Linked DNA regions of Homo sapiens: region 2 is linked to region 1. Evidence: fine-mapped QTL for protein levels in blood plasma. A gene starts in region 1. The other region holds a variant in brackets. All regions are shown on one strand. Distances are from middle to middle.

Region 1 (5,514 bases):
CAAAACAAAAAACCCCAAGAGGTTGAAAATTAGAATCCGGGCGCGGGTTGAGATCTGCGCAGAGCTGCCCAGGCCAGTGCATGTCGCTCCTCTCCTCCGGGTACATATGGTGGCCTGGTCCCCTCCCCCCACCCCCCACACGGTGCCCAGTGAGAAGCACAAGAAGGGGAGAAAAGACCCGCAGCCCGCCTCAGGAGGGCAAGGTTTCTAGCCCCCTGCGGCTCCGGGACCACCCAGGACCCGGGGCGTCGTGGGACCGATCTCGAAGGATCTTAGAACGACACTGGGAGAGCGCGGCAAGAACTAGCCCCACCTTCCCCCGACGCCCCGGACTGACTGCCGGGCGCAGACCCGACTTCTCCCGAACCAGCCTCGGACCAGCCTTAGAAGGCGGAAAACAGGATTCAAACCCGCCTATGAGCAGTGGTAGGGGCGGGGGCTGTGGGGGCAGGACTCGGTTTAAGGAACCAACCGCCTCGGTTCGAGGGCCTCCTGTCCGGAGGTTGCTCCTGACCACTGGGTTTATTTTGCTTTTGCAGAGGAGGCAGATGTTGACCTCTCTTCTTTGCACAGTCTCTCCGCAAAATTTTCCCCCAACCATTTGCTTTCTTGCGCCACCCCCCACCGGGGCACTATCCCTGGAGTCAGCTCCTCAGGCCTTTAAACCTTCCAGAATGTCACACATGGAAACCTTTAGCAAATGTTTGTTAATGATCATAACAAAGGCATCATTCAAATTAGGCAGGTAATTACTACCAGAAGGACAACTGGGTGCTCGCTTGCTCATCCATTGCTTTCTGCTTTAAACTCCCGAGGAGTCGCTGCCTGGAGACACTCCCGCCCGGACTGCTTCTCGGGCCCCATTAAACGGCTCTGAAATGAACTGTGAAGTTACCATTTGTGGGCGGAGAGCGCTGGGGCCCTGCGGACGGAAGACCCTGGCTTGACCGGACTAACAGTGTCGCCGAAGCAAAGCAGCCCCTCTGGGTAGGCTGTCTGTCTCGCCTCCTACCCTCTGGGGCAACTAGCCTAAAAACCCGGTTCTCAACTTAACAGCATGTGGCCCAGCACCCGCTTTTGCCTTTTATTCCGCACTCTGATTTTTGGGGGGATCGTTTGTTCCCGCTCATTTTCTACAAACATTACGGTATCCTGTTAGCATTCCGAACAAGGGGCTGTTCATATATTTGCCTTCAATGATTTCCTGAAGGGACATGTGGAAGTAATAGCGAGCGGTGCAGTCACCCAAGCTGAAGATGCACGAGAGCGGGTCGCGTAGAAGAACTGCGGCAATGGGACCCCCAGCGCAGCCCCAGGCGCCCTGTTTTCGAGGCTGACATCCCAAGATCCTGTCCTGGTTAGGCACAGCACCGCGCCCGTTGGAGTACTTCTCTGTGACTCTCCCCTGTCCACTGCACTGTGTCCACCCTCCTGGTGAAGGAGGAGACGGCTGTTGGACATGCCAGTCCCAACCTGGCCACTTTGGCCATTTTCAGAGTGCGTGTGTTGGGGTGGGGTTGAGGGAGAAGGATGAAGGATGACCCCCAACCCCAACAGGAGAATTCAAAAATCAGAGAGCGATGAAGGTGAACGCGCTCCCCTCCCCCGCTGTCGCTGGGAAGCCCCACTCTGCCCAGGTCTGGTTCCTGGAGCATCAGCGCCCCCTTTCCCTCGCCGGCAGGATCGTTTCCTCCCGACACTGGCCTCTCGCCTTGGGCGCAGGGTTTGGGGCTCAGCTGTCAATTCCAAGGAATTCGTAGGGTTCGACCCACGCGGCGGGAGGGAACGGAGGGAGAATCAAAAGGCATCCTCCCCCACGACGCGGAGGCGGTGGTACGATTCCTCAAACGCCCAAGCTTGAGCTTTTTTTGTATGCGAGATAGAAGCCAGGGCAACCTCGCCCAGATAACCCCGAAAACAAAGGCACGACCAGATAAGTGACTTCAAGGGAGTAAAGGTCGTTCTATCGGAGAACGTTCCAAACCTACACAGACCCTCTTTTCTTTGTACCGTATTTCAGACCACCCAGTCTTGTACACACACACACACCACACAAAACAAAAACCCATCATTGTCATATTGGACTCAACAGTTTGCCCAATCCTATTAAATAACTAGCAACTATATAGCCCTTCCCCTAAAAGACCCCTAGTTCAAAACGGCGCAACCGCTTGGAGATTTCTCCCGAGGGCCCTATTTCTCGTTGGGCCGAGTTTGTAGAAGGGACATTTCTTGATTCTAGATTTATATTCTCTCTGGGTATTAAATGCAATTTTGTATGTTCCTTTTCTTCTTTTCAAAGAGAATACAAAACTATAGCAGTCTAAGAAAATAACCCCAAAATGGGGAGGCAAACTCATTCTGGAAATGATGGGCTGTTTGTAGTTTCACAAAACCTCTTTCCCGGCAGAGCACCAACACCTCCCCCTTCCACCACCCCCCATCCCATCTGGTCTGCTTCTCCCCGCCCCCCAGTTGTTGTCGAAGTCTGGGGGTTGGGACTGGACCCCCTGATTGCGTAAGAGCAAAAAGCGAAGGCGCAATCTGGACACTGGGAGATTCGGAGCGCAGGGAGTTTGAGAGAAACTTTTATTTTGAAGAGACCAAGGTTGAGGGGGGGCTTATTTCCTGACAGCTATTTACTTAGAGCAAATGATTAGTTTTAGAAGGATGGACTATAACATTGAATCAATTACAAAACGCGGTTTTTGAGCCCATTACTGTTGGAGCTACAGGGAGAGAAACAGAGGAGGAGACTGCAAGAGATCATTGGAGGCCGTGGGCACGCTCTTTACTCCATGTGTGGGACATTCATTGCGGAATAACATCGGAGGAGAAGGTAAGGGAAAAGAAAAAATGATTTTTTGTTTATAAGGGAAGTCCCTGATCAGACTCTGGGACTGGAGAAAGCGAAGTAACTTCAAACTTTGGGCGACAAGAAAAAAAAAAAGGAGCTGGATTCCAGTTGTGTGTCCAGAGAGTAATTTTTTTTTTTCGGAATAAACTTCACTTGGGGACGGGTGGGAGATAACCATAGAGTTAGAAAGTCTAGGTATTTTTTTTAAACACACATTTTCCAGACCTATTTTTAAAAACAATGTTTTTCTAACAACCCTATGGCCTCCCAAAGAAATTGTTTAGGCTTACATTTTTGAGGTTTCTTTTGGGAGTGGGGGTGGTGTTCGTGAATACTGGGCCGAACACCAAGGAACTGGGGGTGGAGGCAGAGGTGTTTGCCCTCTTCTTGGCAGTGGGTCCTGGAAGGCGACAGGTTTTAAATGAGTGTTTTCATTCCTCGCCTGCGGTTTGGCGGGACAGCGCTGCAGCCCATGGTGTGGAGCGCGGCTGGGGGACCAGGGGGAGGTGGGGAGAGGGGAGCGTGGAGGGGAGCGTGGAGGGGGGCGCGCGAAGGGGTTGCGGGGCGCAGGAGGCGGGCTGGGCTCGGCTGGAGACCGGACCTCGGTGTTGGCCTACAGCACAGGGAGCCGGCCGAATGCGCGTGATTACTGGACGGCGCTGCTCTGGGAGAGAGTCGGGGCCAGATTTGGCGCGGCGGTGAGGCGGCTGCGGGACAAGCAGAGGCGCGCGGGCGTGGGCAAGGGTTTGGGGCGCTCTGGAGCGGTTTGTTGGGTCAGTGAGGTGCCAGGGAGAGCGGGTGCCTGCCGGGCAGTGTGCTCGGGTTGCACGCCCTAGCGCGGGGGCGACAGCGGCGGCGCGGGCGGGCGGTCTGGAATAATGACAAACACATTTGGCCCTGAGTGAAGAAGTCGTCGTCGCCTCGCATTCCAGCAACTGGGATTTGAGGAATTTCGAACCGCACACCAAGGGGCCCTCATTGTGCTCCGTGGCCCCCGCCCCCGCCTGTCTTCCCGCGCCCCCTCCTCGGTGGAATCATTTCTGCATTGCCCGGGGGCTCTGCTTTCGCTCAGTTCTGGCCGCAGGCAGGAAGAGAGGAAAGGTCTCCAGGAAGGTGCCGAACTTCTTGTGAGGAAGTTAGGGACGACTTGGAACTGGGGAAACTTGTTTGCAGGTAAGACAGAAAGGTGGGAGGTAAACCATATTCTCCCTCCGGGCACCCGAGCCCTGGACACCCCCTACCCGGCACCCTTCTCCGCGCGGGGGTGCGTGGCACTTGCCGTCTGAGCTCGCCCAGCGCTGCTCGGTCCTCTCTAGTTGGCCTTTTTTCCATTCCTCTCCCTGCCGGCTTCAGAGCCGTCTGTGCGTACTTCTCCTTCCTCTGCTGTCTACCCCCATGGAAACCAGATTTACACACGAAATTAACTCCGCCCGGCTGCGCCCAGGGAGCGGGCGGCGTCCATTTGGCATTGAATATGTGGGATCAGCTGTTCTATTCCGGGAGGGTGTCGGCCAGGTCGGAGCGACGAGTGTGGCCCAACCCGAGTACGTTGCCAGAGGGAGCCAGGAGCCTGGGCCGGGCCAGGTGTGCGAGAGCTGCCGATGGCCTGGCCTCGCGTCTTGGTCGGGAAGGACTTGCTGGCCTGGCAGGCTGTGCGTTGTGCATCCCTCCCGCAGCCAGAGCGCCGGTCCCGCACTTCGCTCCCCGAATTGTGCTAAGACCTCAGGATGTGCGCAAGGAGTGCCTGGAAGAACTTGCCACTCACTCCATCTTCCTGGGTGGGAGGCAAGCATGGATGGGGCCCATATCAGGTCCCTACCGCCCCGCGTCCGAAAAGCCGCGGGCTGGGCGGTGTGGGAAATGGCTTTTTGGCTCCGAGGCCAAATTGCTCAATGTTTTGGACCGACTCGCCTCGCCGCGGTCGCTCCTGACAAGAACTAGACAGATTTTTGGAGCAGGGAGCATCCAGGGCAAACGCACGACAGTCCTCCGCAGTGCATCTCACCGGACAAACATCCCCGGAGCCACAGGAGGGGAGGAAGGGGCTCTCCGGGCGTGCGCACCTCCCCAGCCGCCGCGCTGTCCCATCCCCGACCCCTAATCTGGTCAACCTGGACCCCGGCACTGCTGAATTGCATCCCCTCTTCTCCCTTTCTCCTCGGCCTCCTCCTTTCCACAACCCTCAAGATGAGGAGGCCCTGCCTCGACTCCCCGACAGGCGCAAGGCCGACCAGGCTCGCTTTGACGCCCTGGTCAGGCCCTGCTTCGGAGCTTGCAGTTTTGGGTTGACCCAAGTGCAGCTGGACCTCGTTCACAAGAGTGAGGGGAAGCCAAGAATGAACCCGTCGTTAGCCCCCGGTGCCCTGGCTCTTGTTTAAATCCTTAGATCGAGAAGGACTTGAAGGAGATCCCAGGCTCCCAGCTCTGCGCCCCTGGGCCAGTTTCCTCTCGGGACGCGGACTGAGGAGGGATGCAGGGGGAGGGGCATTGGGCCGGGCTTTCCAGCTGCAAACACGTCTGGCGCCGAGGCGGGCCCATTTTGTGCCTCCTGGGGACGGACCGTGGGCGGCGCGCAGCGGCGGGACGCGTTTTGGGGACGTGGTGGCCAGCGCCTTCCTGCAGACCCCACAGGGAAGTACTCCCTTTGACCTCCGGGG
Region 2 (3,010 bases), 43 kb after region 1:
ATATGGACAAGAAAAAAAGATGACTTTACTTTTTACAGTAAAAATAAAACTTAAATTGAAGAGTACAATTGTTTAAACAATTGGAACTTACTTAGCTACTGCTTGTTGAAACAAAATCCTTTTTTTAAAAGGTATCGAAGCAAATTAAAGCTGATCCGTGCTAAGGAAGAAGACAGTGGCCATTATACTATTGTAGCTCAAAATGAAGATGCTGTGAAGAGCTATACTTTTGAACTGTTAACTCAAGGTATGTAAAGGGAGTATAAAGATAATGCTAGCTCTGTAGATGAGTGTCTTCCAAGGAAAGCCTGGCACTTTTCTCCCCGGTCATGGAAGAAAAGCAGCACTTAGGGGAGAAGCAGTGTCTGCATATGTCACATATCGGGAATACCTCTGCTGGACTCATGAATTCAGGTATTTCTGGGAGGTTCTGGGTTACTCTAGAGTAGGCGAGGAATCCCTAGGCTCCACCAGCTAGCTTTATTTTTGTAGAGATGGAGTCTTGCCATGTTGCTCAGGCTGGTCTCCTGGGTTCAAGCTATCTTCCCACCTTGGCCTCTCAAAGTACTGGGATTACAGGTGTGAGCCACTGCACCTGGCCTCCACCAGCTTACTTAGCACCTGCTTCTCAATCTGAGAAGAGAGAAGCAGATGACCTTAGATTGTTCTGGAGAGTTTTGCTACAAGTTTTCCTTATAGACATTGTACAGTGGTCCTTACCAGAAGGGAGTGCCCAAGTCTGTTTACATTCAGGCTCAGCACCTATCCAGAGTCCCAGCCATGAGCCAGGTGCTGTCTGAGGTGCGCTCATGTGATCCTCACAGTAAAACCTGTGATACAAGCAACACCGTATATCTAATTTATTTGACCACAGATTTAGAAAAGAATCTTTAAAACCTAATAACATACCACAGATGCATTTTGGTAAATGCTGCTTTAGATTATACTTTAGCTGAATCCATTAGTTGAATCCTAAGCTATAATATAATTTTAAGAACCTCCTTGCCTTTCAAGCCAAATAACCAAGGGACTTTCTCTCTCTCTTTCCCTCCCTCCCTTCCTTCCTTCCTTCCTTCTTCTCTCCCTCCCTTGTTATCTCTTTTCCTTTCCTTTCTCTCCTTCCTTCCCTCTTCCCTTTTTCCTTTCTCTCCTTCCTTCCTTCCTTGCTTCCTTCTTCCCTCCCTCCTTTGTTCTCTCTTTTCCTTTCCTTTCTCTTTTTCTTTCCTTCCTTCCTTCCTCACTCACTCTTTTCTTTTCCTTTCTCTCCTTCCTTCCTTCCTTCCTCCCTCCCTCACTCTCTCTTTTCTTTGCCTTTCTCTCCTTCCTTCCTTCCTTTTCCTCCCTCCCTCCCTCCCTTGTTCTCCCTTTTCCTTCCTTCCTTCTTTCCTTTCTTCCTTCCTTCCCTCTTCCCTCACTCTCTCTTTTCCTTTCTCTCCTTCCTTCCTTCCTTCATTCTCCCCTCCCCTCCCCCCTCCCCTCCCCCTCCCCTCCCCCCTCCCCCCCTCCCCTCCCCTTCCCTTCCCTTCCCATTTTTCTTCTCACCATGTTGCCCAGGCTTGCCTCAAACTCCTGGGCTCAAGTGTTTCTCTTCCACCTCAGCCTCCCAAGTAGCTGGGGCTACATGTGTGAGGCATCACAACCATGGACTTTTCACTTTCTTCACTCCAGGTTAAAAACATCACAGGGATAAATCTCAAAACACCAAAACTGTGAAAATGCTGCTAACCATGTGGGTCTGTCTAAACTGGAGTGTTACTTGTACAACTGGTTTCAGCCCCTCCGGAGTGTTTTGAATGCCATGTAGATGAGTTGTGAACTCATATTCCACTTTGTAGTCTCATATGTTCTGGGACACGAGCTATTCCATTCTGACTTCTTTCTGCCTCTTGCAGTTCCTTCATCCATTCTGGACTTGGTCGATGATCACCATGGCTCAACTGGGGGACAGACGGTGAGGTGCACAGCTGAAGGCACGCCGC[T/C]TCCTGATATTGAGTGGATGATATGCAAAGATATTAAGAAGTATGGAAAACAGATGTGTCTTCTTCTTTCGTGGTCAGAATATTTCTCCCTTGACACAAATGATGTCAAATACATTTTACTTATTGACTATAAGATAGGGTTTTGGGTGTGATAGCTTCAGGGTGTGTATCTTTTGTCATGAATAGCTGTGAGAAGAAGGTCCAGGGCTCTCATTAGACCTTCAAAATGTCTCCAATCTAAAAACAAGAGTGAATTTTAAGAACCACTGTTCTAAGAAGATTTTTACTACCCTGGCTCACATATCTTATTTGGTGAACTTTGTTTGGTAGTCGGACTGCATGTAAACATAAATGTGACTGCTTAGTCCCTTATCTGCCCACCTGCTGTTTGGTGGGTTAATTCGCCATTCCCTCCTCCCTCCCCCGAGTCCTCAGCCTTCTTAAATGGGCACATGAGCAATGTGTTTACACTTCATCCATGGTAACTGGTTGTGTTCAGAAGCCTCAGTTGTTTCTTCCTCTAGACAGAGACTCCTCATCTTAACTTCTAGGGCTAAGAACAGACTTGGATGTTGACTGGGGTTTCTAGTAGATTCCAGTGTGGAGCAGGATTCTAGGTCTTATAACTCAATCTGAGGATCATCGCAACCCTAGTGACACCCTAGGGGCTCTTCCCAGTGTGAGTGTTGAGAAGGGAGGGCTCCAGGCCTTTTTGAAGGGGTGGGAGATTGAGATCATTAAATATGGTTGAAGTTGAACTGTTCAGTTTGCTCATAGGTTCAAGATTGGGGAATGGTAGTCATATTTTATTAAACTTGATTATCTCTGCCTGCTATGTAAACACTTAGCTTTCAGTTGTTCATGTGTGAGTTATTCCCTCTTCAGCACATGCAGACAAGTTTTAATGTTCATCTGCATGTAAAATAAATCAGTGTGTATTGCCCCGAAATGCAGACAAGGTCCCAACTCCTTGCCATCTTAGAGTGTTCCCGTGGCTCCACTCATTGCCATGACTCTCAGGAATTGGCCCT

Which allele goes with the higher level. Positions count from the first base shown, and alleles are read on the strand shown. Strength reflects both the effect of a copy and how common the allele is.
In carriers of allele C in region 2, the plasma level of the protein whose gene starts at base 2,717 in region 1 tends to be higher than with T alone (moderate association).

What was found. PIP is the chance, under the fine-mapping model, that this variant and not a neighbour inherited with it causes the effect. The UK Biobank Pharma Proteomics Project read protein levels with antibody pairs (Olink). The fine-mapping took linkage between variants from a reference panel, not from the people measured, so its PIPs are less certain.
Region 2: its variant is fine-mapped to the plasma level of the PDGFRA protein (UK Biobank, PIP above 0.99). The variant lies in the coding sequence of PDGFRA. If it changes the protein, the assay may bind it differently, which can mimic a change of level.

What each region holds. Positions count from the first base shown.
Region 1 is chr4:54,226,577-54,232,090 of GRCh38, forward strand. PDGFRA (platelet derived growth factor receptor alpha) reads left to right here and starts at 2,717. Exons shown (of 23, transcript NM_006206.6): 1 at 2,717-2,839. RefSeq lists enhancers at 1-361, 1,190-2,015 and a silencer at 1-67.
Region 2 is chr4:54,270,502-54,273,511 of GRCh38, forward strand. PDGFRA (platelet derived growth factor receptor alpha) reads left to right here. Exons shown (of 23, transcript NM_006206.6): 8 at 132-247; 9 at 1,893-2,019. Among named protein-coding and RNA genes, the nearest start is that of PDGFRA, 43 kb to the left of the region's middle. The variant T/C (reference allele first, on the strand shown) is at 1,980.